Linked DNA regions of Homo sapiens. The protein of the gene in region 4 purifies or fractionates together with the protein of the main gene of each other region. This does not show direct contact. Each region holds a gene or a part of one and is shown on either strand. Other genes may lie near its edges.

Evidence for each region.
Region 1: the proteins of PLEKHG7 (region 4) and AARSD1 purify together in Homo sapiens (affinity purification with mass spectrometry, with the first as the bait; 2 studies listed by BioGRID). This does not show direct contact.
Region 2: the proteins of PLEKHG7 (region 4) and FCSK purify together in Homo sapiens (affinity purification with mass spectrometry; one large-scale study listed by BioGRID and IntAct). This does not show direct contact.
Region 3: the proteins of PLEKHG7 (region 4) and KIAA1671 purify together in Homo sapiens (affinity purification with mass spectrometry; one large-scale study listed by BioGRID and IntAct). This does not show direct contact.
Region 5: the proteins of PLEKHG7 (region 4) and CPSF2 purify together in Homo sapiens (affinity purification with mass spectrometry, with the first as the bait; one large-scale study listed by BioGRID). This does not show direct contact.
Region 6: the proteins of PLEKHG7 (region 4) and MTMR1 purify together in Homo sapiens (affinity purification with mass spectrometry; one large-scale study listed by BioGRID and IntAct). This does not show direct contact.
Region 7: the proteins of PLEKHG7 (region 4) and SYMPK purify together in Homo sapiens (affinity purification with mass spectrometry; one large-scale study listed by BioGRID and IntAct). This does not show direct contact.

The regions. Positions count from the first base shown.
Region 1 is NC_000017.11:42,954,186-42,958,306, forward strand, and holds part of AARSD1 (alanyl-tRNA editing protein Aarsd1), read right to left. Parts: intron 3,011-4,121; coding exon 2,953-3,010; intron 2,376-2,952; coding exon 2,219-2,375; intron 2,136-2,218; coding exon 2,019-2,135; intron 1,788-2,018; coding exon 1,657-1,787; intron 1,040-1,656; coding exon 973-1,039; intron 783-972; coding exon 691-782; intron 1-690. Other genes in the region: PTGES3L-AARSD1 protein, read right to left, coding at 691-782, 973-1,039, 1,657-1,787, 2,019-2,135, 2,219-2,375, 2,953-3,010. UniProt on the Homo sapiens protein: Functions in trans to edit the amino acid moiety from incorrectly charged tRNA(Ala).
Region 2 is NC_000016.10:70,467,733-70,471,853, reverse strand, and holds part of FCSK (L-fucose kinase), read right to left. Parts: intron 3,969-4,121; coding exon 3,888-3,968; intron 3,006-3,887; coding exon 2,886-3,005; intron 2,703-2,885; coding exon 2,531-2,702; intron 1,541-2,530; coding exon 1,428-1,540; intron 884-1,427; coding exon 782-883; intron 673-781; coding exon 502-672; intron 1-501.
Region 3 is NC_000022.11:25,029,021-25,033,141, reverse strand, and holds part of KIAA1671 (uncharacterized protein KIAA1671), read right to left. Parts: coding exon 3,602-4,121; intron 534-3,601; coding exon 446-533; intron 1-445.
Region 4 is NC_000012.12:92,733,612-92,737,732, reverse strand, and holds part of PLEKHG7 (pleckstrin homology domain-containing family G member 7), read right to left. Parts: intron 1,255-4,121; coding exon of another isoform or gene 1,252-1,254; coding exon 1,156-1,251; intron 356-1,155; coding exon 212-355; intron 1-211.
Region 5 is NC_000014.9:92,135,469-92,138,968, forward strand, and holds part of CPSF2 (cleavage and polyadenylation specificity factor subunit 2), read left to right. Parts: coding exon 1-28; intron 29-2,763; coding exon 2,764-2,879; intron 2,880-3,500. UniProt on the Homo sapiens protein: Component of the cleavage and polyadenylation specificity factor (CPSF) complex that play a key role in pre-mRNA 3'-end formation, recognizing the AAUAAA signal sequence and interacting with poly(A) polymerase and other factors to bring about cleavage and poly(A) addition.
Region 6 is NC_000023.11:150,696,006-150,700,126, reverse strand, and holds part of MTMR1 (phosphatidylinositol-3-phosphate phosphatase MTMR1), read right to left. Parts: intron 933-4,121; coding exon 827-932; intron 1-826. UniProt on the Homo sapiens protein: Lipid phosphatase that specifically dephosphorylates the D-3 position of phosphatidylinositol 3-phosphate, generating phosphatidylinositol. Could also dephosphorylate phosphatidylinositol 3,5-bisphosphate to produce phosphatidylinositol 5-phosphate.
Region 7 is NC_000019.10:45,849,366-45,853,486, forward strand, and holds part of SYMPK (symplekin), read right to left. Parts: intron 3,171-4,121; coding exon 3,117-3,170; intron 3,021-3,116; coding exon 2,947-3,020; intron 1-2,946. UniProt on the Homo sapiens protein: Scaffold protein that functions as a component of a multimolecular complex involved in histone mRNA 3'-end processing. Specific component of the tight junction (TJ) plaque, but might not be an exclusively junctional component. May have a house-keeping rule.

The DNA.
Region 1 (4,121 bases), on a different chromosome or scaffold from region 4:
TCTACCAAAAATACAAAAGTTAGCCTGGTGTGGTGGCACATGCCTGTGATCCCCCAGCTACTCGGGAGGCTGAAGCACGAGAACCGCTTGGACCCAGGAGGCACAGGTTACACTGAGCCGAGATCATGCCACTGCACTCCAGACACACTAAGACTCCATCTCAAAAAAAACACAAAAAACAAAAGATACAGAGTTACAGTAAATATGTTAATATCAAACCCAGGAGGCCTGGTATGTAACATATTTCTTTTTTTTTTTATATTTTTGAGATGGGGTCTCACTCTGTTGGTCCAGGCCGGAGTGCTGTGGCGTGATCTCCACTCACCACAACCTCTGCCTCCCGGGTTCAAGTGATTCTCCTGCCTCAGCCTCCTGAGTAGCTGGGACTACAGGCGCGTACTACCATGCCTAGCTAATTTTTGTACTTTTAGTAGAGAAGGGGTTTCACCATGCTGGCCAGGCTGGTTTCGAACTCCTGACCTTGTGATCCACCCGCCTCAGCCTCCCAAAGTGCTGGGATTACAGGCGTGAGCCACCGCGCCCGGCCAGTAACATATTTCTTAGGATCTACTCAACCTTGAGAATACCAGTGAGCAATCCACCTCCCACTGTACATTGCATATAGAGAAGACACTGAGCCCTAAGCCCAACACAGTTCCCCTTCCTTGTGTCCAGCTCCTAATTTCTCACCTGTGTAATATGACCACACCTCCCCAGTCTGGACTGTTCCTGAGGCTATGGGCAATGTGCACAGCCAGGTCTCTGAGCAGATTCAGGTTATTCTGAAATGGATATGGTAACTCAGTAGATAAATGGAAAGGATAACAATAGAGAGTATCAGCTTCCCTCCACCTCATTCTCCCCTCACTCCCACTTTGACAAACTACACATCTGTTTAGGCAGAAGACCAAGTCTGCAGAGCCTATCCTAGGCAGGGCCCATGCCCTCTCTACCCTCCATGGAATAAATCACCTTCTGCAGGATCTTGGTGGAGTTCTGGAGCTTTTTCACTGCTTCCACATGATCCTCTGCTCCACACCTGAAAGAGAAAGGTCAGAGGAGACCTGCGCAGCTTCCCAGTCGTTTCTGATGTTGGGGACATAAATCAATAATTTCCTTCTTGCTATGGTGCCTCCCTGCAGTCAGGGACCAGGAGATATTCTGAGGAGGTCTCTTAGGCAACTGGGAGAAAACATACAAAGGAATTAACCACTTTTCGTGGTTCTGATTTACTATCCAAAGCACTTGATCTTTTTTTTTTTTTTTTTTTTGAGACAGAGTCTTGCTCTATCGCCCAGGCTGGAGTGCAGTGGAACGATCTTGGCTCACTGCAAGCTCCACCTCCCGGGTTCACGCCATTCTCCTGCCTCAGCCTCTCGAGTAGCTGGGACTACAGGCGCCCACCACCATGCCTGGCTAAGTTCTTTTTGTATTTTTAGTAGAGACGGGGTTTCACGGTGTTAGCCAGGAAGGTCTTGATCTCCTGACCTCGTGATCCGCCCACCTCGGCCTCCCAAAGTGCTGGGATTACAGATGTGGGCCACCACGCCTGGCCGCACTTTATCATTTACGATTGCATCTTATCTCCCAGAGGTAAGAGATTATGTCGAAAATCTCAGAAATGGGAGGTAATCGAAGGTACTGAAACAGGCATACTTAAGCAGAGCAGTCAGTGCTTTTTCAGTTCCATGACTTCTCTCCATCCACTTCAGCACCCGGTTCCCAGACAGAAATATCAGGTTGGTTCTGTTCTTTTTCCCCTTCTCAGTGCCCAGAATCTTAATGACCTACATGAGGCAAGGGGGTAACACACACACACACGTGTGCACATGCATAAACCACAGCGGATCCTAGAACCTGAAGGCAGGAGAAACCTATCTGTTCCTCAGCTCTGAAACAGTGAAGGGGAGATTTCACTTAGGACTCCTCGATTATCCCCCTCTCCCACTCCCAGCCCCATGTGATCCCCTCTCCCCCAATCCCTCTTCTCAGCCACTCCACAGCCGTTCCTCACTTACCTGAAGGTCACTGAGATTGCTCACATGGGTCCCACAGCACATGTTGGAATCAACGCCCTCGATGTTAACAACCCGAATGGGCCCAGCATGATCATCAGGCAAACCCCGGCCACTCACCTGGACTCAAGGAGAGGGGAGGGACTGTCTGAATCTGATGAGGAATCATTCCGCAGAAACCATCCCTCTGGCTCTACCCTTACCTGCTCCACCTCAGGATCATCCAGGCTCAGTTCTCGGACATTCACAGGCAGCCGATCTCTGATTTTTTCATTGACGCTCTGCTCAATGGCAGCTACTTGCTCTGCAGTCATAGAGGGGGTGTCCAGCTCAATCGCACTCCGAAATCTCCCTAACTCCCTGTCAGAAGTACAGTGGCCACAGATAACATATCTTACTGAACAAGAAAAAGCTGAAAGCTTTTCCTCTAAAAACTGGAACAAGCATACCCTCTCACCACTTTTTTTTTTTTTTTTTTTTTTTTTGAGACGGAGTCTCGCTCTGTCGCCCAGGCTGGAGTGCAGTGGCGCGATCTCGGCTCACTGCAAGCTCCGCCTCCCGGGTTCACGCCATTCACCTGCCTCAGCCTCCCGAGTAGCTGGGACTACAGGCGCCCGCCACCACGCCCGGCTAATTTTTTGTATTTTTAGTAGAGACGGGGTTTCACCGTGTTAGCCAGGATGGTCTCGATCTCCTGACCTCGTGATCCGCCCGCCTCGGCCTCCCAAAGTGCTGGGATTACAAGCGTGAGCCACTGCGCCTGGCCTTTTTTTTTTTTTTTTTTAAGACAAGCTCGCTGTCACCCATGCTGCCATTTGGTGGCAATCACAGCTCACCACAGCCTTAATCTCCCCGGCTCAAGCAATTCTCCCACCTCCGCCTCCCTCCCAGTGCTGGGATGGGCCTGCCTACAGTTAGTCTTATGCCTCCCACTCACCATGATGTTGTCTTCAGCTTAAATAGATGGTCAGCAACTGCCGTGATGAGATGCTGCCCTAAGCAAAGAGAGCCAGAGACAGGAGAAAAGTGAGAAGCCTACATACTCCCACAATGATAAAATATGAGCTACAATGATAAAAGCACAGAAATTCTCCTTGTTGAAGACCTGCTAAGCACTGGGTAATACACTTTAGATACTTTATTGAAAATCACAATGAGAATTCTGCAAGAGGCCTTATGATACCATTTCACAGATGAGGAAACTGAAGCCTAGAGAGATCAAATAACTTGCCATGGCAATGTAACTTATAAGGGGCTGGACTTGAACTTAACTTCCTTTTTTTTTTTTTTTTTTTTTTTTTGAGACAGTCTCATTCTGTTGCCCAGGCTGGAGTGCAGGGGCTCACTGCAGCCTCCGCCTCCCAGGATCAAGCAATTCTCGTGCCTCAGCCTCCTGAGTTGCTGGGATTATAGACGTGCATCACCGTGCCCGGCTAATTTTTCTACTTTTAGTAGAGATGGGGTTTCACCACGTTGGCCAAGCTGGTCTTGAACTCTTGACCTCAAGTGATCCACCTGCCTTGGCCTCCCAAAATGCTGGGATTACAGGTGTGAGCCACTGTGCCCAGTGAACTTAAGTTCCAATATGCAGCATTCATCCATTCAACAAGTATTTATTGAGTACCTACCAAATGCAAGGCACAGGGCTTGACATAAGAGATACAGCAGCATCCCTGATTGACAAGAGTGATGATGAGGAGAAAGAAGAGGAAGAGGAGGAGGAAGAAAAGGAGAAAGAGGAGGAACTATCAAGGAAGAGGGAACAAGACAGCCAAAGGCCTTAAGGAAGAAAGAAGTAGCGCATGTCAAAGGAATCCAGAGATGACAAGCAAGGCCAGGATGCAGCCAGCAAGAGGTCAAGGGACACCAGATGAGGCTACAGCAGTAGACAAGAGCCACCCAGATACAGCTTGTATGCCATGGTAAAAAGTTTGGCTTTACACGAAGACCTACAGGAAGCCTCTGAAGAGCTTTAAGCAGAGGAGTGACATAATATTTTCATTTTTTAAAATTTATTTCAGTCAGGCGCGGTGGCTCACTCCTGTAATCCCAGCACTTTGAGAGGCCAAGGCAAGTGGATCATGAGGTCAAGAGTTTGAGACCAGC
Region 2 (4,121 bases), on a different chromosome or scaffold from region 4:
GGCCTGGGAGACAGAGTGAGTCTCAAAAAAAAAAAAAAAAACAACAACCCCACCCAACCAGACTAGCATGGCGAAACCCCATCTCTACTAAGCTGGGCGTGGTGGTGCACGCTGGTAGTCCCAGCTATTCGTGAGGCTGAGGCAGGAGAATCGCTTGAACCTGGGAGGCAGAGATTGCAGTGAGCTGAGATTGGGCCACTGCACTCCAGCCTTGGTGATAGAGCAAGACTCTATCTCCAGAAAAAAAACAAAATCCCCACCCAGCCCACCTGGCAGAGCAGATGCAAGGAGGGAGGTAAAGGCCTGTGGAGACTCTGCTGGTCTCACAGCCTATCTTCACCCTATCTCCTCCCTCATTCTCTCCTCCCTACATCCGACCCTCCTCACAGCCTGTCCCACGGGCCAGTGCTCAGAGAACCCCGCAGTGGGGTGGGGGCCAGGACTCCTTGGGCTCCCCAAAGCCTGAAGATGGGGGTGAGGGAATGCAGGGTGACTGCCTACCTCCCAGCTGTCCAGACGGCCAACGAGGGTGAAGGCGTGGCCCGGGGAGCCGTGTAGCCGCGTGTGGTGTCCCTGCAGGACAAGGTCACGCAGCTCCCGGCCATGCAGGGCCTTGGAGTGGGCTGTATCCAGGCCAGTCACCAAGCAGCCAGCGCCTATGTGAATGGGGCCCTGGTGGGGGACAGGGCAGGCATCCTGGGTGGGCAGGCACCCAACACCCCCCAACACATGCGGGATGCCAGCACCCTCGCCCCAATCTGCCCACACGCTCAGGCCTCACCTGCAGGTGGCAGTGCTGCAGGACGCTCCCAGGACCCAGCTGGACAGGGCCCTCCAGCAGGCAGCTGACCACAGAGCTCCCGGCCGCCAGAAGCTGCTGCTCCTGTGCAGCCAGGTAGGAGGAGCATGAGGGGGGTCGAGGCCCAGGGCTGCCCCAGCTCTCCTCCCAAGCCAAGCATCCAGGGGCAAAGCGTCCAGGCCTACTGCTCCCCTGCCCTGCAGCACCCTAGACTCCTCTCTGGACCTGCCTTGGCCCCAGCCTGAGACCTATTTCCATCCCACCTGTCCAACTACGCCCAACCTTGCCACCCTGGGGGCCACCTCTGAACCCTACCTGTCCCCTTCCTCAGCAGCACGGCACTGACCCAGGCCCACCACTGTCACCCCAGGCAGACCCCAAATAAAGGTCTCCTTTAGCTTCTCAATCAGGCAAGCTCAATGCAGAATCCTGAGTTGGCCACTTACTGGCTCTGTGGCCTTAGGCAAGTTACTTAGCCTCTCTGAGCCTCCAGCACTTCATGTGTAAACCAGGGTAACACCTGCACTCGGGTCATCTGTTCCAAGTGCCGGCTATTTTCTTCCCGGGAATCCACATCCCACCTGACCCCAGACAACCAGCAGGCACCGGAGGGGCAGGGAGGTCTCACCTCCACCTGGGAGTGCACAATCTGGGCCCCAGGAGCCCCGGGGAGTGTGAGGCTGAGCAGGAACTCACTGGCTGAGGAGGTCATGTAGCTGTAGCTGCCGCTGGAGACATAGGCTGTAAAGACATAAGTACTGAACCCAACCCCATGCCTGCTGCGACTCAGGGGCCAGGCTGCCTCCCAGCAGCAGAGACACATGGGGGCAGGTGTGGCCATGAGCCTGTTAGGGGAAGCTGAGTCAGGAACCTGCCCAAAGCCACACAACACAGCTAGAAAGTAGACAGGTTGGCCGGGCACAGTGGCTCACGCCTGTAATCCCAGCACTTTGGGAGGCCGAGGCAGGCAGATCACGAGGTCAGGAGTTCGAGACCAGCCTGACCAACATGGTGAAATCCCATCTTTACTAAAAATACAAAAATTAGCCAGGCATGGTGCCACGCACCTGTAATCCCAGCTACTCAGGCAGCTGAGGCAGGAGAATCGCTTGAACCTGAGACGCAGAGGTTGCAGTGAGCCGAAATTACGCCACTGCACTCCAGCCTGGGCAACAGAGCCATACTCTGTCTCAAAAAAAAAAAAAGAAAGCAGACAGGTTAGGGCCGGGCATGGTGGCTCATGCCTGTAAGCCCAGCACTTCGGGAGGCCAAGGCAGGCGGGTCACCTGAGGCCAGGAGTTCAAGACCAGCCTGACCAACTAAAAATAGAAAAATTAGCCAAGTGTGATGATGCATGGCTATTATCCCAGGTACGCAGGAGGCTGAGGCAGGAGAATTGCTTGAACCCAGGAGGCGGAGGTTGCAGTGAGCTGAGATCGCACCACCTCACTCTAGCCGGGGCGACAAAGAGAGAGTCCGTCTCAAAAAACAAAACAAACAAACAAAAAAAAACAGAAACAAAAGTGGACAGGCTGGGAGAGCCCAGGAATGAGACAAAAGGAAGACAAGAAGGGGAAGGAGGTAGCTCAGTGGGGGGCTCTGGCACAGGACAGGAGAACTGCCCAGTCCCTGTGCTGGGCTGCCTGGCCCAGCATGCAGTGAGCAGCTCCATTCTTGGGGTCCTCACTCCCATGGTCTCCCCACCCCAGGGAGCTGAGAGGCAGTACCCACCCATGGTAAGGGGCTGATCGCGAAGCTCCCTCCACAGCTGGGCCCGGGCGCTCTGCAGATAACCCGCTACATCTGCATCGCCTTGCCCCAACTCTGGGGGCCTCCCCACCAGGAAGTCCTCCCTGGTCACGTTCTCAGCCATGCAGTGGAGAATGTCAAAAAACAGAGACAGCTAGGGGAAGGGGAAGAAGCACAGCTATTGGCATGGCAGGGGTTCAGCCCCCAAGTTCTGAGGCTGAACCAGGGCAGTCCCGTCTGCGGAGACTCTGCCCCAGAGAGGGGAAGTGGCTGGCCTGAGGTCACACAGTGCCTCGCCCCCAAGCCAGGCCCCACCTAGCTGCCCTCCCCCAGTCACCTGGACAGGCCGGGCTCCGGAGTCCAAGCCTAGGTAGGTGCAGGCATCCAGGGGCGGGCTCACGTGGGTGGCTAGGAGGCGCTCGGCAGTCTCCACAGAGAAGAAGACAACCCCAGAGACCTGGAAGGGACCCCAAAAGGATCAGAGATGGAGGGCCCTGGACCAGGCCCTGGTACAAGTCAGGGAGGGCACATGCAGATGGGCCACATGAAGCTGAGTGCCATACCAGGCAGGGAGTGTCACCTTCTGACCACTCCAGCAGCCAGACTCCAGGCTTACTTGGGGTAGCTCCCACCAAGACACCTTCTGGGACACCCTCAACTGTCAGGCCTTCTCCTGAACCCAGTTCTCCACCCTCGCCATGGTCCACTCCCAGATCTCCATGCCTCTCCAATCCTTGCCCCTCATGATGGAAGCATTCCCGGAGTCTGGCTCTAGGCCTCCTCCCAACCGCACTCCCTAACTTGCTCACATTCTGGTTCTAGGCTTTCTTTTTTCGTTTGAGTTTTTGAGGTTTGCTTTGTTTTGTTTTACAGCGGGCAGGGGATTGATTCAGAGTCTCGCTCTGTCACCCTGGCTGAAGTGCAGTGGCACGATCTCTGCTCACCGCAACCTCCGCCTCCTGGGTTCAAGCGATTCTCGAGCCTCTACCTCTCAAGTAGTTGGGATTACAGGCACACACCACCATGCTCAGCTAATTGTTGTATTTAGTAGAGACAGGGTTTCACCACGTTGCCCAGACTGGTCTCGAACTCCTGACCTCAACTGATCCACCCGCCTCAGCCTCCTAAAGTGCTGGGATTACAGGCGTTAGCCACCGTGCCCGCCTGGTTCTAGGCTTTCTGGCTCAGGACAAGACCCTGAATTCCAAGGCTACCCTGTCCTCAGATTCTAGCTCTAGCTTGTCCTGGAGGCTTCTAGAAGGAATCGAAGGAAGTCAGACCCTCCCTCCCTGTCCCATAAGGTCCCCAAAGCCCCGCAACCTGGGCCCAGCAGCCATACCAGTGGCACCCGCCCATCAGGCCTGACACACCGCTGAATCTCTGCCTCAGTGCCCTGGTAGTAAATGTCCAAAACAAGGCCCTATGTGCAGGGAGAAACAGAATCAGCGGAGGGAGCAGGAAGGGATCTGGAAGGAGGCCACAGCCACAGGTGGCAGCAAGGGCATTCTCCAAAGGAAAGCTGAGGACGCAAGGCTGGCAGTTGCTGGCATTCTCAGGGGGGGCCTGAGATTTC
Region 3 (4,121 bases), on a different chromosome or scaffold from region 4:
CAAAGTGCTGGGATTACAAATGTGAGCCACTGTGCCCAGCCACCTACTTCTTCCTTCTATGGCTAGGTGGTAAGTAAGGGGAAGGCAATAAGAACCACTATGAAGGACCTTGAAGGAGTTTCTATTAACATCTTAAACCTAAATTTTAGTATTTTAACAAAGCAGGCACTCCTATATAAGAAAGCCATGCCCCTCTGCCTCTTTGCGAAGAAAAAAAATGCCTGATAACATTTGTAAACAGCATTTAACACCTGGGAGTAGGGAATCACAACTCTTCATGCCAAAAGGGACTTCAAAGTCCCAACATTAGAAGAAAAAATGTTTTATCGTGTGCATGACATGTTTCTGAGTCTTCCTGGGGCCTAGAAGATCATGGAGGCTCTTTCTCCAGCAGCCATAACTGCCCGCTGGTTAATGAGAGACGTGCTACACAGCCACTCCTTACCTTTTCTCTCGGTTCCTTAGGAAACTCGCCGCTCAGCTCAGCACTCTTCTCATATTTGACTTCGTTGCTGGAAGCTGAACTTGAAAACCTGGTACAGAGATCTGAGTTACCTTCATGGAGCTGGAAGCTGTTATTCCCCCCAGCCCACACACCAGCTCAGGAGGCCAGGCCAAGTAACCTTCAGAAAGGACATTTCCTTTCCACTTACCAAAAGGAGAACTGCCCAGTGGGGAGAGCCTACCTCAAACACAGCATTACTGGGGTGGAGGAGCCCCAGCTGGGGGAAGACACCCAGGTGCTAGTCCCAGCTCTACTGCCTCTTCACTGGGGGAGCTTGGTTTAGGCTTGTGACCTCACCTGAGCCTCTGTTTCTTCATCTATAAAACAGGGATAATTAACACCTCCCCATCCCTTTTATGGGGCAGATAAGAGGCTACTCAAGGCCCTAATAGCTACGTGAGGGCGTTTAGGGAAGAGTGAAGATGCCCCAGGAGGGATAATGAATGGCTGTTGTTAGCAGTGCCAGGTAAAACAGCAGCCCCACCTCAGAGCAGCCCCCAGACTGAAGGGTAGTGGGCTGTCAGGGAATGTGTGGGGGCCCAGGTCTGTCTCTGCCTCTCTGGATCACCAGGGCCCTCTTTGGGCCTCGTTTTCCCCACCTCAAAAAGGGAAGAGGGTGTGGAGCTAGAATCTTTCCATCTCTGGAGAGCATTCTGGTGTAAATACCTGAAGATGTAGCACGTGTTTAGTTCAAAGCTGGGGACTGAAGAAAAGGAAAGGGAGAGAAATCAAACCACTTAAACTTAACCCATACTCAGCAACCCAGGGTCTGTCTCCTGGGATATGTGAGGCTGAGAGGAGTTCTGTCTAAACTCAGAGCCTCAGTTTCCCCACCTGTCAGATGGGGATAATCACACGGCCTCTCCAAGGCTCTTCCATGACATAGTGAGAGGAAGCATATTAGGACCGTGGCATAGGTGTCCTTCTCTGATATCTTAATTCAGGGGTTGTCAGCCCCGGCTACACATAAGATCGACTTGGAAGCTTTTAAAAACTACCAAAATACAGGCCGGGTGCCGTGGCTCATGCCTGTAATCCCAGCACTTTGGGAGGCTGAGGCGGGCAGATCATGAGGTCAGAAGTTCGAGAACAGCCTGACTAACATGGTGAAACCCCGTCTCTACTAAAAATACAAAAATTAGGCCGGGCGTGGTGGCTCACGCCTGTAATCCCAGCACTTTGGAAGGCTGAGGCGGGCGGATCACGAGGTCAGGAGATCGAGACCATCCTGACTAACACGGTGAAACCTCATCTCTACTAAAAATGCAAAAAATTAGCTGGGCGTGGTGGCTGACGCCTGTAGTCCCAGCTACTTGGGAGGCTGAGGCAGGAGAATGGCGTGAACCTGGGAGGCGGAGCTTGCAGCGAGCCAAGATCGTGCCACTGCTCTGGCCTCAGCGGCAGAGCGAGACTCCGTCTCAAAAAAAAAAAAAAAAAAAAAAATTAGCTGGGTGTGGTGGCGCGTGCCTGTAATCCCAGCTACTGCGGAGGCTGAGGCAGGAGAATCACTTGAACCCGGGAGGTGGAGGTTGCAGTGGGCCGAGATTGCAACACTGCACTCCAGCCTGGGTCACAAAAATAAATAAATAAATAAAAATAAAAAATAAAATAAAAACTACCAAAATAGAACACCCTCCCCAGACCAAGTGAATCGGAATCTCTAGGGGTGGGGCCCAGGCACTGGTATTTTTTCCGGTTATTCTAAAGTACTGAGGGCCAGTGGTCTAGCTTTGGCTTGGCTGGCTGTCCTGGTTCCCAGGGCCGGGAGGGCAGTCTGCCCAGAGATCCTGCCTTTGCAAGCTCCACCCTGGACAAAGTATGTCAGTGGCATGCATGCCATTAAGAGCCAGTCGATCATGCCGAGTGGCATCTCTCTGTTGTGGCCACTTGTGGGAAAACAAAGAAGAGATGTCGGAAGTGGGCCAAGTTTAGAATATCATTATTAACCAACCGACTTAGAATATCATTATTAGCCATCTGACTTAGAATATCATTATTAACTAACTTAGAACATCAGTATTAACCAACTGACTTAGAACATCAGTATTAACCAAATGACTAAGAATATCTTTTTTGTTTTTGTTTTTTGGTGTTTTTTTTTTGAGACGGAGTCTTGCTCTGTTGTCCAGGCTGGAGTGGAGTGGTGTGATCTCGGCTCACTGCAACCTCTGCCTCCCGAGTTCAAGCGATTCTCCTGCCTCAGCCTCCTGAGTAGCTGGGACTACAGGCGCCTGCCACCACGCCTGGCTAATTTTTGTATTTTTAGTAGAGACAGAGTTTTACCATGTTGGCCAGGCTGGTCTCAAACTCCTGACCTTGTGATCCACCCGCCTCGGCCTCCCGAAGTGCTGGGATTACAGGCATGAGCCACCGCGCCCGGCCTAGAACATCATTATTAACCAACTGACTTAGAACATCATTATTAACCAAATGACTTAGAACATCGGTATTAACCAGCTGACTTAGAACATCGGTATTAACCAACTGATTGACAACATCGGTATTAACCAACTGACTTAGAGTATCATTATTAACCAACTGACTTAAGAGTATCAGTATTAACGAACTGACTTAGAATATCATTATTAACCAAATGACGTAGAATATCAGTATTAACCAACTGACTAGCCCAAGTTACCTTGACTCCTCTGAGTTTATTTTTTGGGCCACTCATAAAGGCTTAGGCCCAATCTTAAGCGTTCTCTCTCTGACTTCAGGGAAGAAAGGCTTAGCTATGGAGACAGGCTGAGCTGGAATGCCATCCAGCTCCCACCTCCCCACAGTATTTCACCCTTCTGCCCTGCCTCCATGAAATGGGCACATACCGCCCACTTCACTCACACACTACATCTGAAGCTGAGAAAAGCCATGAAAATTGGGCTCCGGGCCCCCCGGCTGGCCATACCCAGAGGAGAGCTGCACTGCCTCTCCGCACCTCACCTTTCTCATCTGAGAAATGGACACTGCCACTACCTCCTCTTGGGCTATGGGTAAACTGAGGGGGGGTGACAAGTGCCCAGCATGGAGCCTGGTTCCGTCTTCCTCAGGGTGTGTGGGTGGGCGGCTGAGAGAGGGGTGTGGGATGTGCCTACTTACAATTTGGTCAAATCCGCCGACAGCGGCCGAGCCTGGAACGTCCTCCTCCTGACCTCGGGCTTAGCCTCTGAGCTCTCGGCAGTCCAGCCTCTGATCCGTTCCTGAACGCTCACAACCCCTTTCTCCGGCTCTGGTGCCGCCGATGGGGACGCAGGGGTGGCCAGGGGAGATTCAGACCCCACTGCCAAGGCCAAGGTGCTGTCCTCCCGAAACAGGCTGATGCACTTCCTGACACTCCTCCTGGAGGCCCACTCTCCCCCTGCCGCGGCCTCCCCATCCGCCACTCTGCTCTTAACCTCAGCAAGTTCTAGGCCCCTTCCCAGCCTGGGTGAGGGGGACTCAGCAGCCTTCTCTGGCTCTGGGTCCAGCTTGGCCTTTTCTTCCCAGGGACTCTGGTCATTGCTGGGGGTGACCCCAGATGAGCCCCCCACCAGGGCTCTGGGGCTGCCCATCTCCGGCTTCGAAAGCATCTTCTCCTTCCGTTCACGGATTTTCTTGGCCACCTCCAGGAAGTCCAAAT
Region 4 (4,121 bases):
CCTCCTTCCTTCCCTCCCTCTTCTTCTCTTTCTCTCTTTTTCTTTTCTTGTCTTCCTTCCTTTCCTTCCTTCCTTTCTTTCTCTTTGTCTCTCTTTCTCTTTCTTTCTTTTCTCTCTTTCTTTTCTTTATTTCTTTCAGAAGAGGAAAACAAGTGCCCAAAAAAACAAATTAATATTTTCCATCTACTACAAAAATTAAGCCTGGCATTACCATCTTAAGAACTAATAAATGGTCCAAAAAATAGGTGCATTCACTTGTGAAAAGTTCCCACACGGCCTCTTGCTGCTTTTTCAGGTCTAATTGATCGGTCGGGAGTTTGTGATGTGTTTCCAAGACTTCATCCCAGGTCTTATCCTGTACATGAGGGAAAAAGAGAGAACAAAACATTTCCACCTCAGTGGATTGACCTGTTGGCTATTTGCTTTGGCTTGCAGTTCCAAAGGACCAAGCAACCCCCGAAATCATGATTTCCTGCTTCAGACCCTGGGCATCCCTCTTGACAGTGACTCCCCAAGTGACCCAAGCCACAGCTTCTCTCTGTGGGGCTCCGGGATGCCAATTCCTCCTAATATGCAGCATGAAATGCACAATGTGCATTATTTCTAGTTTAAGATTCAAATCAATTCAGATTGATGATGTTTTGAATTATGCTTGAGAATATCATGAGTCTTTTTCAGTTTATTGACAAAAAAAACTCAAAGAACCCTAAACCCAGGACTGGGAAGTCTGATTCCAGGTTCCGTTGGCAAAACTTATTGAAATTAACTACTGAAGAAGCATGAAGTGAGAGCTTTAGAGTGCAAAGAGACCTTTAGAAATTGTCTTATCAAAAACAACTTAACGTTTCAAATGAGGAAATCCAGGCCCAGAGAGACGAAGAGTAGTAACACCCACTTTTAACATTTGTAGAGGCTTCCTGGCCTATGAAGTGCTCTCACATTTGTTACCTTATTTAAGATAAAACGACTTTCCCCAGCTTTCAGTGTGTTTGAGGAGAGCAGGCCCTGCTCAGTCCTGGGTTCCTCTCTTGCATTTTGCTCTTACTATAAACAAGGCAGTAATCTGGCAGCTTAAAATACTGACCCGACCTTCCCCACCCCACCAAAAAACGAAAAGAAAAAGTCAAACCCCATAGTTAACAGTTTGAAAGATACCTTAAGACCGTAGAAGTCATAGCCCCTGAAGCTGGTAATTTTCACAGAGGACAGGCAGTTTTCCAGATCAGATATGTGCTTGTGTTTGTCTTTGCCCTGCTCGAAGATGGTTAGAAACAGGATTTTCAAACATTGATTCTTTAATGACATGACTTCGGTAGCCTTGGCATCTTTCGTTCATTCCCTAACATTCATGATAAGAGATGGCATATTTTGTCTTTAAGCCACTAACAGTTCCAAAGCCATTTCTGAGCTCTAGTAGGAGCTGCAGAACCACAGAATGTCAGACCTGGGGGACACAGGCCCGTGAGACTACCTTGTCCAAACCTCTCATTTTACAAATTAAAAAAAAAAAAATCCTAGGCACAGAATGGTCATATAGCAAACAGTCTTATCATGCCTACCCATTGGGGTGACATAGCCTTCACAGTCTTAACTTTTCCAAACTCTGGACCCTAAGATTTATTAACATCAGAAGGTACCTCAGACATATTGGTTCAACCCTTAATTTAGCAGATGACAAAATAAAGCCCAGTGTTCAAGCGAGTTGCCCCAAACAATAATTCTCTGCTACAGAATACCAGAATATGCTGGAAACTCTATTTTCCTTAGAATGGAATCACCCACTTATTTTTGTTATAGTCATTTTTTCTTAATAATATTTGTTTAAAAAATCTGATTTCTAAGATAATATGTTTATTGTAGAAAATTTGAGAAAAAACAAACAAAAAAAAGCATGAAATGTGTCTTCACCCCTATATACCCATTGGAAATATGGTATTCTGATCATATTCATAATTAATTTTTAAATGGTATAATGTACCATATTTACACATCCTTTTGCAACTTGCTTTTTAAGCTTATATTGTGAACATTTTCTTTTTAGTTCATTCACTATTCTATTGCGACATCATGAATTGCCCACTTAAAGAGTTCATTTTACCAACCAAAGCAGGAAGAAGCTATCAAATAACAATGTGCAAGGCTTTTAAAAGTCAGCTTGGCTGCATTTCAAATGAATGTTTATCACAATTTTTCAACTTGTTCTATTGCCTCAGAGTGCACGATATTGGCATGGATCTAAACAGTTTTGTGAAAGTTAATCAATGTTTTTTTCAGGAGCAAGAGAAGGCACAGGTTATCTGCTGTTGCAGGTAGGGGGCTCCCTGTGTGCTGAAAGGAGACCGTGTCATAGTTTCAGAATGTGCTAATGGGCTGTGGCTGGTTTCTCTGGTAGGGTTATGGCACTGAAAGAGGAAACCTATTGTAGACTCATTAGCCTCCACAGCAGCAAAGGAATCTTGGAACCAGTTAAAGACCTCCTACTGCAATTGGGACATATGCCTTTTGTTGATGTCTGAAACCATAGTGACTGCATGTTGTGGAAATAAAAAATCAGCAGCCAGTTGGAAAAGAAAGAGGCTGAGACAATGGAAGCAGCATTGGAGTTGTGGGAAAGTGAGTGCCAACCCCGTGTTTTGAAGGGCACTCACCATGGCTTTCTATGGGTTTGACCAGCCTCCTGGCCAAATGGCTGGGTGGGTATTCCAGTGAGGGGAGAGGAGACCATTCTCCCAGTGGTCACATTAACTCTTGAAAACGACACACCCATTTAGTACCTTCTTGCCTCCATTGTGGTGGCAGTGGTTAGGAGAGGCAATGAGAAGCATTTGAAGGTTACGAGAGAGGATACACAGGGTAAAGAAATCGAGAAGCCAAGGTTAATTCTGGAGTCTCAAACTTAGTAACTAAGAGGTAGGTGGCATGAAGATGTACAGTAGTCATTGGTGACATGGAACTGGAGCAAAACTGAAGGTTAAGACTGAATATATAAATTTTTGGAGTGGTTGACAAATCAATGAGAAAAGGCAAGATCTATGGAGAGCTCTAATGAGAGAATGGAGGGAGGAGTTTCCAGGTCTGGTGATGGGGACTCCTACAGTTGAAGGAACAGGGCCACATCAGGGGTAGAACAGACTCAAAGCCAGACTGCCTGGAACTGCTGCATGCTCCATAGCTTATGAGCTGTGTGTCCTCAGGCAAACTAGTCAAACTCTCTGAATCCATTTCCCCATTTTCAAAATGAGAAGTAATAATGTTACCTACCTTGTTGGATTGTTGTAGAATTTATGAGTTCACATGTGTTAACTGACATGCATAAACAAGAATACATGCAAACAGTAACAGTACCTGGTAATGTGCTAAACGTTATAGAGGTGTTAGCTTTTATTACTAATATTATATTGATGGTTGGGAAGAAAGGAAGGAGGAAGGGAAGAAAGGAAGGAGGAAAGGAAGGAAAAAAGGAGGAAAAAGAAAAATCTCTAAAGATTGGAAAAGCACATGACAACATAGAAGTATGTTTGTTATATTGATGTGGATTACCATTTATAGAGATATGAATTACATGATAAATAAGGCTAAGAGGATAAATGAAAGAAGAAGACGTTAATTTTAAGAAAACAGATATTGTGTTCTTGTGAAAGTGAAGCTTCTAGAAATGACTTTCTCTTCATTGCTGAAAACATTTGCTGAAAACGTCCACTAATTATTCTTCCTTTGTGTATCTCCCTCATTGCTTCCCTCCCTCCAACATAGTGCCAACCATTTAGCATGTTTTCCTCCGCCACCCACAGTTTACTTGTCAGTCCCATCTTCTCAATTGTGAGCTGATAATGGACATCTTGGCATCTTAGATATCTGTCCCAGTACTTGGCCCAGTTGCTCAACACATGTGTGTAGAACAAGTTGCTTCTTTTTGGGGAAAAGAATGGATCAATCCCAACAACTTGTAGTAGTGTCCCTTCCTTGGCCAAGTTCTTCCCTTCTGAAAGCATATTCTATCTCTCAGGCAGCCCTCAGAGCTTCCCTGTCCTAGATAAGCCCTCGGGAGGGCTAGGGGGGAGATGCCCCTTCTCCTGAGACCTCAGATGTGATTGGTGACCAGCTCTGCCTCTGTTTATTCG
Region 5 (3,500 bases), on a different chromosome or scaffold from region 4:
CAGTTGACTTCAACCACAAGAGGGAGATGTAGGTATATCAAGAGAAAAGCTAAAGGCAATGCAATTGGTATTATTTTATTCTTTGGAGAAAAAATAAGAAACACAGTTTTTGTTTTGGTTACCAGAAATTTAGAGCAACTTAAAACCGTCAAATAGGGAGTGTTTTCAAAATTAATTATTTGCATAGTAAGGGGGAAAGTATGGTATAAGACATAAGAGATTTTAAAAATTTATAGGTTAAGTATACACTCTACAAAACGGGTATCTCCCTGGAGATGTTGCAAAGGAGATGAATTTTTTACGTATCAAATTACATGTTCTTGACCTGCTATTTAACACAACTTTGTGGATGGGTTGTTCTTTTGTTTTGTAACGTGATATGGTTTGGCTCTGTGTCCCCACCCAAATCTCATCTTATAGCTCCCATAATTCCCACATGTTGTGGGTGGGACCCGGTGGGAGATGATTGAATTATGAGGTTGGGTCTTTCCCGTGCTGTTCTTGTGATAGTGAATGGGTTTCACGAGATCTGATAGTTTTAGAAACAGGAGTTGCCTTGCACATAATGTAATTACCATCTAATATAACTGCCCTGTATGTTTAAAGTTAGTCCCTTTGAAAGGGAACTCAATTCTAGTTATGATTTTACACACTTCATGTGGCACTCAGAGCATTACTATATAATATTTTGGTGTTTAGTCTCTTACAGGCTCGTTTTGTTTTATCTGTACATTAAGTTCATAGCTATTTTGTGTTACATTACAATAGTCTCAGGATCTTTATATTAAGAAATATTTAAGACAAATAGACTGAATTTTAGACACTTATAACCATAGATTAATGAGGAAAGGATGGCTATGTTGCAGGGCAAAAGAGTGAGGGTCGTGATCAACTCAGTATACCACTGGAGGCTATATGAGTAAACAGCAAACTGTTCGCATAAACGCAGAAAATTGGCAAACTGACAAACTGTGTCTGCCACCCAGAAGGAATGCTGAGGGCAGTCAGGCCTCAGGTGCAGGTGTTTCTTGTGATTAGACACATCTGAAGCCTGTTAGCAGTAATGTGAACCTGTGATCAATTAAGCAGCTGACCAATTGTTACCTCGTCCTCCCTGCTCTTTCTACCCAATAAATATGAAGGGCTGTAGAAGCTGAAGGCAGCTCCCTTTGCTCACTAGAAGCAGGGAGCTCTCTTCTTCTTCTCCTGACCCCTTCCTTTAAAATAGTTACTTTTGTTTTAAGTTTTCATTTCTGCATTCGTCCTCCTTCGTTCAGTCTCGTAGTAACCGTGGCAAACTGCAGCATGGCTATTTGAGTAAATGGTATTGAAGGATTCAACCATTTTGGAAAAAAATCAATTTGTGTCCTTTTAATTATATAACAAAAGAAATTTCAGATGGATTAGAACTAAATAGAAATGAAGCAATATTGGTGAGTCTGATCTCTGATTTGGAAAAGACTTTGTAAGCATAAAAATAATGAACCAAGTTACAAAGTAAAAGTTTGATAGATTTGATGACATACAGGTTCAAATGTCTGAAACAACAAATAAAAAAAAAAATCAAAGTAGGAAAATATTTGCAGCAAGTTGCCCAAAAACTTACAACATATATATAAGATCAAGTATTAATTTATTAATAAAAATATACCAGTTGCAAGATGGACAAAAGTTATAAAGTCAAAAGAGAAAATTTAAATGATCTTTTTTTGTTAGATACCATTAAAATTATTATTATTCTTATTTATATTTTTATGTATTTTTTTGAAACAGAGTCTCACTCTGTCACCGAGGCTGGAGGCACAATCACGGCTCACTGTAGTGTCGACCTCCCAGCTTCAAGCAATCTTCCCATTTTAGCCTCCCAAGTAGCTAGGACTACAGGTGCGCTCTAACATGCCTGGCTATTTTTGTAATTTTAGTAGAGATGAGGTTTTGCCATGCTGCCCAGGCTGGTCTTGAACTACTGGGCTCCAGTGATCTGCCCACCTCTGTCTCCCAAAGTGTTGGGATTACAGGCATGAGCCACTGCACTAGTCCAAAATTATTTTTAAATGGTGATTTTCTTCTGGGAAGTATGTAGAATTGGTCAGTCTTTTTGATTGAACTTTTCTGGATGAGGTTAAATCTTGCTGGAAAGCCTTTTAGCAGTACTATGTATTAACAGTAAATACATTTTTAGGAATGTGACCTAAAGAAACAATCAGAAATGCAATTGAAGCTTTTGTAAAAAATGTTCTTTGGAAGATTATAATGGCAAAAATAAGTGACCGAAATATCAGTAAAGGGAAAGGATCAAATACAGTGTAGACACAATAAAATGTTTTTATAACTGTTAAACATTTAGTTTAGAAAAAAATTTTTATGTCCTGGGTAAAAACCAGGATATAGAACTGAGCGTATAGGAATGTATATGGGATATCAGCTTTGTAAAATACATATGTATATCAGTACTTACCATAAGACAGGGCAAAAAGAAAAATAAAAAAAATACATATGTGCATAGAAAAACTTATATGGTTAGCAGGATGTACACCAAAATATTATGTCAGTTATCTCTGAGTAATGGTACTCTGGAAGATTTTTATTTTCTTCTTTATACTTTTTTGAAGTTACTGGATTTCTTATCAATGAGCATGTCTACTTTTATAGTTAGAGGAGGGAACACCTTATAAATGAAGCTGCTTATTTTTTAAGTAAGAGAAGCTATTATTGTTTACTTGAAATGATATAAAATATTCCTCTTCTTAAACTTTCTTATAGCCATTTAAATGGATGTTCCCTGGAAATGCTAAGCAGGCCTTCCCTACTTATCACAGATTCATTCAATGCTACATATGTACAGCCTAGAAGAAAACAGAGAGATGAGCAGCTTCTGAGTACGTATTCTTTCACGTCCTTATTATTATTATTATTTTGTAACTTTTTGTATATTTAGGGAATATAAGTACATAAAAGTACAGGTTTCTTTTTTTTTTTGAGACGGACTTTCGCTCTTTCACCCAGGCTGGAGTGAAGTGGCGCGATCTCGGCTCACTGTAACTTCCGCCTCCTGGGTTCAAGTGATTCTTGTGCCTCAGCCTCCCGAGTAGCTGGGATTACAGGTGTGCACCACCACGCCCAGCTAATTTTTGTATTTTTAGTGGAGACAGGGTTTCTCCATGTTGGCCAGGCTGGTCTTGAATTTCTGACCTCAGGTGATCCACCTGCCTTGGCCTCCCAAAGTGCTGGGATTACAGGCATGAGCCACCACGCCCGGCCACAAGTATAGGTTTCTTAATGCATACGTTGCACAGTGGTGAAGTTTGGCCTTTTACTGTATCCGTCTCCAGAATCGTGAATGTTGTACCCAATGTATAATGTCCTTTTCAAGGAGCTGTGGAAATGCATGGTAGTGGGAATGACTGTATTCTGTTTAGCACTTTTCTTGGTCATAAGAGATTGGTTAACTTTAGTATTTTTGAAAAAAATATTATGTGACCATCAGTTTTTGTATAAGA
Region 6 (4,121 bases), on a different chromosome or scaffold from region 4:
TTGTGAAAAATCAATCATCTCTTACTAGCAGGAAAAATGACCACTAATAAACAGAAACCTCAACTTAGGCAAACATCAGTACTGAAATATAAATGTGATTTCATTTAATATACCTATTAATAGTTTATTGACATTAAAACAAAGTTAGTCTTTAGCCTTAACAAAGATGGAACAAGCGATTTTTTTGATTTGTTAATTGATTCAATATTTATTGAGCAACTGTTATGCTCCAGGATTGTGCCTGGGAAGCCAGTGGTAAAACTGCCCTAGTCTCTGCTGACAAGGAGCTTATCACTTAAATTTAGAATAAGCAGGGAATCTAACTTTTAAAATGAACAAAAAGAGATTTTCACTTCAGTAAGGACTGAAAAATGAGGCTGCCCATACAATACTCTTTTGAGATTCTGGAAGGGTTTTTATACATTCTAGTATCACATGTTAATGCTGAATACTCACAGATAATACATAAATTAAAAAATTGTGAAGTTAGGGAAGTATTGTACATCAAGATATTTCCTGAAACTCACAATACTAACAAAGAAGCTATATGCATTTATTATTATAAAATGGAACTTGATTTTTAAAAGAATCATTGTCATCTAAAGACAGCTTCTCCTTTCAATTACAAAACTATGACTACATGTACTGGATACTGGTAAAATTTCTCTTCTACATTTCAGATCTAACAACAGAGAACCTTTCATCCTTATTCTCGAGCAAATGGCCATGTTGCATCAAAAGGCCAACAGCTCACTTGAATTAAAACTGCAAAGCTTCTTGGCTACTTAGCATACTGAAAATGAATTAAACACTCAATGTTGCTTACCTTGTAATCTCTGGACACATTTTCTGATGTCACTGAACCTGAAATCTGACTAGAAATTGTAGCAGCTATAAGCTGTTTACACCATTCAACATGTGATCCTGTGGGACTAAAAAAAATAGCATGGATTACAAAACGTTATATCATAGGATCTCAGTGAAAAAATTAGCACTGAATAGGAATATGATAACACTTCTTTTTTTAGATGAACTAACTAGACTCTTTGGTTACCTTCACATTTTATGTAAGAACTGAAATAGCGACTGACAACTAGGAAATAAGATTAGATTCCAGGTTAATTTTAAATGAATCACCCAATTTTCTCAAACAAAGTTGAAGATTCTAGGTGTTAGTTAAGCTTACTATTCTCTACCATTTAATGGAATTTTACTCTATTAAAATTATATGGAAGAAATACTTCTTTTTTTTTTTGTGAGATGGGGTCTCACTCTGTCACCCAGGCTGGAGTGCAGTGGTGCAATCTCAGCTCACTGCAACCTCCCAGGTTCAAGTGATCCTCCCACCTCAGCCTCCTATGTAGCTGGGACTACAGGCACATGCCACCAGGCCCGGCTTTTGTGTGTGTGTGTGTGTGTGTGTGTGTGTGTGTGTGTGTGTGTGTGCGCGCGCGTGTAGACAGGGTTTTGCCATGTTTCCCAGGCTAGTCTCGAATTCCTGGGCTCGAGTGACCCACCCGCCTTAGCCTCCCAAAGTGCTAGGATTACAGGCATGAGCCACCACACCCAGCCGGGAGAAATATGTGAAATATTTATCTTACAGCATAGGCTTTTCAAACATTCAATCAATTTCATGTTGGTAGTTTTAAATCTAGAAAATAGTGTACTTTTGAGTGAAGCAAAGTGACTCAGAAAAGTAAAGCTGAACATGAGATTTATAAATTACAGCCTAGAAAAATGATGTTCTCTGTGTAGTACTAACAATACCTTACACTTCTATAAGTGCTTTGACAACTTACAAATGGTTTTTATTTTTTATTTATTTTTTTTTTTGAGACAGAGTCTTGCTCTGTCACCCAGGCTGGAGTGCAGTGGCGCGATCTCGGCTCACTGCAAACTTTGCCCTTCTGGGTTCAAGCAATTCTCCTGCCTCAGCCTCCCTAGTAGCTAGGATTATTTAGGCGCATGCCACCATGCCTGGCTAATTTTTGTATTTTTAGTAGAGACGGGTTTTCACCATGTTGGCCAGGCTGGTCTTGAACTCCTGACCTCAGGTGATCCACCCGCCTTGGCCTCCCAAAGTGCTGGGATTACAAGCACAAATGGTTTTTATTATATCAGAGCCTCACAACCATGGTGTGATGAGAAGGCAGAACAGGGACTAGCCGACTTGTCTTTGAGGAGAGAAAATCGAGGCACAGAGGTGACATGCCCTGTGAGAAAGTGGCTGTCCTCAACAGGACATGGAACAACCAATAGCGACTGACTCACTGCACTGAAGCCAGCAGCACAGATGCGAGCCAACCGCTTTACATGAAAACACAGCAATGCAAAGAAAATGTCATCTTTCACTCCCACAGAGCTCTGAGGCATCAAAGCATTTTCACACACGTAGCCTTGCCCAGCCTCACAGTGACCCATTTTACAGATGAAAAAATTAAGGTCCAGTTTTGCCCAAGGTCACACGACTGGCAAGTGGTCAGGCTGTACTCACCTGACCTGAAAGACCACATAAGCCAACTAGCGCAGTAAGAGATTTAACAATTGCCCCCAGAGGCCGGGTTCCTCTCACAATTTGGCAAAACACTAAGAAATCAAGCTAGAGGGCTAAAAACACCGACAAAAGTTTACCTTGCAGGTAGCTTTCACTGTAAAGAATGTTTCAGGCCTTTAAAAAAAAAATCATATCACTAATTAAACCCACACTCACATATCTGAAGGACAGAAACACCTGGAATCCCCAGGCAATATGGAAAATGACCCAAATAGTAAAAGAAAGAAAACTGAAGTTCTGTGCTAGTGATCCAAATTGCAGTCTCTGATCAAAACAGACCAGAGGTTATCTGTATGGTTGAAAATACTGAATGAGCAGAAATTCCTATCACATGCCAGGAATCTATATACCACAATTTCGACCTGAGGGGGAGAAGGAGAGAAAAGGGAGAGATTTGTTTCCTTTTTAAAGGTTAAGTCACTTTCATTCCCACGTATATCATACTTTTCTTGTCATAATGCCTTTTTCTGTCAGCACCCACCAGTTGCAAATACAGGAAGAAACTGCAGAAACCCAACTGCTGAGCATGAGTGTGACCTGCTATTACCACCTGCCTGCCCGGCATGCCTTCCCCCTTCTTCTGATAAAGACCTTCCTCTTTACTTTGGGAACTGCCCTTCCCCACAACACAGGCTTCTGTGGGGGAAAGCGGAGAAGAAGGTTGACCCCTTCCTCCACCTGCTCCCACTTGTAGGTGAGTTACCTAGGACCAGCCAATCCCAGACTTTTCCCCTTGGATCCTGAAATACATGGATCTGTATCCAGAGCTGCTGGAGGCCACTCCCCACCCCACCCCACCCCTACCATCTTAAGGAACTCACAGCGATTAAAAAGTGAGGGAAAATAAAAGAGAGAGGGAGAGAGAGATGGGGAGTCCCGACAACACTGTTTGCAATCCTGACCTCAACTGTGCCTGTGGCCATCTCTCCTCCTGTCTGGAGCAGTTCTGTGAGCCAGGGCATCTCATTTGCCTTAAGCTAGATTGAACTGTGGTTTCTGTCACCTGCAACCAGAAGCATCCTGGCCAATGTAGTTACACACAGTGAAGCACAGTGGGTTAGCAGACAGGAGGCCTGGACATGAGTCCTGCTTCTGTCACCAGCTAACTCCATGATCTTTGGCAAGACACATCCTCTTACAGGACCACAGCTTCCTCATTATTAATTACAGTATTCAGAAGAGAAGTGAAGGCCCCATAGTCCCAGGGACATGGCCAAGTCCCACCCATAGAGCCAGGTTCCATTCTAGAGGTCACTCTTCAAAGAAAAGTGTGAATCTGAGCTTGTTGAGCTGACAGAACTGAGAAAGGAGGCCATGATTCCTCCCCCATCCCTTCTCTGTAGTCTGTGCAATTGCCCTCTATACTCCTGGTGTCAATAACTACTTACAGGCTGGAGGCTCCCAGCTCTGTTTCTCCAACCTGGACTCTCCTGATCTCAATGCTGATGTTCCTACAAGACCTGTCCACTAGTCTGGCCCAGAGACCCTGCCAATTCAACCTGTCTAAACCAGCATCAGCCGCTCAGCCCCGCAACCTACTCTGCTCCTGTGTTTCCTAACTCAGGGC
Region 7 (4,121 bases), on a different chromosome or scaffold from region 4:
GCTCAAAAAGTAGGGACCCTTTCCTAGCTTGGCAATAACCCCAGCAGGGTCATTTTCATTGAAGAAAAAAATGAAGGGCCTCCAACAAATGTTCAATGAATAAATAGGAGCTCAGCACAGAATTTTCACAGCATACATTACAATCTGAAATATTAATTAAATCAGTCAAAAAATATGAAACTTAGCTGTCAGCTACATGAAGGCAGGAATAATACGTTTTTGCTCACTGCTATACTACAGCCTAACATGGATGCCTGGTACGACAGCAGTCACATGGTATGTATTTGCTGAATGGACTTTTTACAAATTCAGAAAATTTACCACAAATTCTCCCAGTAAATGGGGAGATAGGATATTTGGGTTCTGGCATTGCAGACATGAGTTAAAATCCCAGCCTTGGCCAGGCGCAGTGGCTCACGCCTGTAATCCCAGCACTTTGGGAGGCTGAGGCAGGTGGGTCACCTGAGGTCAGGAGTTTGAGACCAGCTTGACCAACGTGGTGAAACCCCATCTCTACTAAAAATACAAAATTGGCCGGGCATGGTGGCGGGCACCTGTAACTCCAGCTACTTGGGAGGCTGAGGCAGGAGAATCACTTGAACCTGTGTGGTGGAGGTTGCAGTTAGCCGAGATCGCACCATTGCACTCCAGCCTGGGCAACAAGAGCGAAACTCCATCTCAAAACAAAAACAAAAACAAAAACAAAAAAAAACAACAACAGAAAACAAAATTAGCTGGGTGTGGTGGCAGGCACCTGTAATCCCAGATACTCGGGGGGGCTGAGGGAGGACAATCACTTGACTCAGGAGGCAGAGGTTGTAGTCAGCCGAGATTGCACCACTGCACCCCAGTCTGGCCGACAGAGTGAGATTCCATCTCAAAAAAATAATAAATAAATAAAATCCCAGCCTTGCCACATTCTGGCTGTGTGACCTTAAGAAAATTCACTTCACCTCTCTGAGACTGTTTTCTCTTCAGTTAAAGGGTCAAACAACTGATCCATAGTATTACGAATAATGAAGCTGCTCAAGCATTTAATACAGTGCCTTACAAACAAATATTTAATACACAGTAGCTAGTCTACTTCCTCCCAGTCACAAAGCATCCAGTAAAGCTTTAATAAACAAATGAGCAAGTGACCAGCTTGAACAAGTCACTTGACCATTCTGAGCCTGTTTCCCTTTCTGTAAAAAGAGGATAACCACAGTATCCATCGAGGCTGCCATAATTACGGAGATAACACGGGAAAGGACCTGACACAGCGCAGGGCACAGTACGTGTTCCATGTGGTGACTGTTATGTTCAACTCATTCACGTGTGCAACAAATACGTAGTCAGCCCCTACTAGGTGACAACACTGCTCCAGGCAGGTACTGGGGACAAAGTGGCCAGCAAGACAGAAAAAGTCAAGCCCCGTCCTCACAGAGCTGATATTTTGCGGGAAGAATCAAGGTTATTTCAATGAGTGAGGAACACTGTAAAGAACAGTGAAGGTGGGGTGCCTGAGACATGGGGCTGCATGGGAGCGGGCAGGAAGGAATTTCTGAGGAAGAGACCTGAGGGAAGGGAGGGGAGAGCCAGGTGGCAACCTGGGGACGAGGGCCCCTAGCAGGAACAGCAAGCAGACAGGCTGCGAAATCCAACTGTGACTTCTGAGGAGCAGGGGAGACAGAGAGGATCAGAAGTGAGATGAAGCCGAAGTGAGAGTTTGGGTTTCCACCTAAGTAAGCTGATGAGCCAGCTGGGGTCTGAGAGCAGGGGTGTGCCAAGACTGATTTACATTTAACAGCGTCACTCTGGCTGCTGAGTGCAAGAGTGGAAGCGGGAAATGAGTGCGGTGATTCCTCTTTGGGGGATGAAATGCCCTGGAACGAGATTGTGAACGTGCTAAATGCCACTCACTTGTTCACTTTAAAATAGCTGATTTTTGCTGGGCGTCGTGGCTCATGCCTGTAATCCCCGCACTTTGGGAGGCCAAGGTGGGCCAATCACTTGAGGTCAGGAGTTCAAGACTGGCCTGGCCAACATGGCAGAAACCCCATCTCTACTAAAAATACAAAAATTAGCCAGGCATGGTGGCACGCACCTGTAATCCCAGCTATTCAAGGAGGCTGAGGCACAAGAATCTCTTGAGCCTGGGAGGTGGAGGTTGTAATGAGCCAAGATTGCGCCACTGTACTCCAGCCTGGACAACAGAGCAAAACTCAGTCTCAAAAAAAAAAAAAAGGCCAGGCACAGTGACTCACACCTGTAATCCCAACACTTTGGGAGGCCAAGGCGGGCAGATCACCTGAGGTCAGGAGTTTGAGACCAGCCTGGCCAACATTGCAAAACCCCTTCTCTACTAAAAATACAAAAATAAGCCGGATGTGGTGGCGCATGCCTGTAATCCCAGCTACTTGGGAGGCTGAGGCAGGAGAATAGCTTGAACCCGGAAGTCGGAGGTTGCAGTGAGCCGAGATTGCGCCACTGCACTCAAGCCTGGACAACAGTTGAGCGAGACTCCGTCTCAAAACAAACAAACAAACAAAAGATTAAAAAAAAAAGCTAATTTTGTTATATGAATTTCAATTTAACTAAAAAGAAAAAGAAGGGAGCCAGAGAGAGACCACTGAAGTCATCAGGTAGGAGGAAAGGGTGGCTTGGGCCTGCATAGTGGCAGAGGAAGTGATTGACAAACGGTCAGATGCTACAGATATTCTCAAAGTGGAGCCCACAGTCCTTAGTGATAATGTAGATGTGAAGTGTGGAAGAAGCAGAGGAATCACAGATGACCCCAGGGTTTCCATCTTATTAAGTATTTGCTGGGGAATCAGTGTGTATGAGAGAGAGAAAGGGTCTGGGAAGCAGAGGGCAGGCCTCTCAGTGGTGGCCTCCAGGCCAGGCCACGAGCTGAAGGCTGCCACCAGTGAGAATGCTCCCGGGGCTCCGTGCCTCGCCCCATACCATGCCTCCTCGATGAAGCCGATGACAAATTTTCGCACTTCGATTGACTTGTCTGCTTGGAATGCGATGATCTCCTGCCAATGTTAGAGAGAAAGTGGATCAGGGCTACACAAGGATCCACATCCCCTTTCCCCTACACCACACCCCTTTCTCTTCTGTCAGTCACTCACATCCAGGAAGTTGTCCAGTAGTGTGGGGTCTTTGTTGATGATCAGCTCCTGGACCTGGAAGGAGATTGGGGGTGGGGAGGAGGAATACCCATATAAAACGAGGGGCCAATCAATGCAGACAGGAGAGTAGAGGGGAAGACAGCAGAGGGCTAGGCAGCAGATACACTCATTTCAATGCCTGGCTCTGCTTCTCCCTACCAAGGGTGCTATGCTCTGGGCATGGTCTCTGAACCTCAGTTTGCTCTTCTATAAAATGAGACTCTTAAACATCAACTCAAAAGGGATGTTAGGAGGCTACAATGAGATCCTACAAGGCACAGGTCCTGGTAGATAGTGAGGACATGACACAGGAGGGGGCTGAAAAAAAGAGGAAAGTGCCCCAAGGCTCAGGCCTTCCTGAGGTTTGGCCTCCATTCACCTGTCCATCAGTTCTCCCCACTCTCCTTCTGCTTCTGCTCCCTACTTCACATTGCCATGATTCAGCAAACATCTTCACAGTGAGAACCCAATTCCTGAAGCCCTTGTGCCTGCCAGGCTCTTTGGAGTAAGCCCTTCCCATGGACATCCTCCAATAAGCAAAGAGCTGGCACAGGACCTGGCTGCTACAACTCAAGCTACTATTGCTAAACGGCCTCATGACCACCCATGGGGGAGGCACCAGGTGCATCCACTCCACCTCGGAGGTGGGGCTACTCCACAAGGCTACAGGCTGATGAAGGAGCCGAACGGGTTCTCACACAGGAATGCTAACCCTGCCAGTCTCTGAACTCCAACTGCCTCCTGCTCTGAACCATGCCCAGCCCAAGTGTCCCATGTCGTCTTCTGCCTTTGCACACACTTCTGTGCCCTCAGCTTGACATGCTCTCCCTCTCTTGGCTGGGCACGGTGGCTCGTGCCTGTAATCCCAGCAGTTTGCGGGGGCCAAGGAGGGTGGACCACTTGAGCTCACGAGTTTGAGACCAGCCTGGTCAACATGGTGAAACGCGTCTCTACTAAAAATACAAA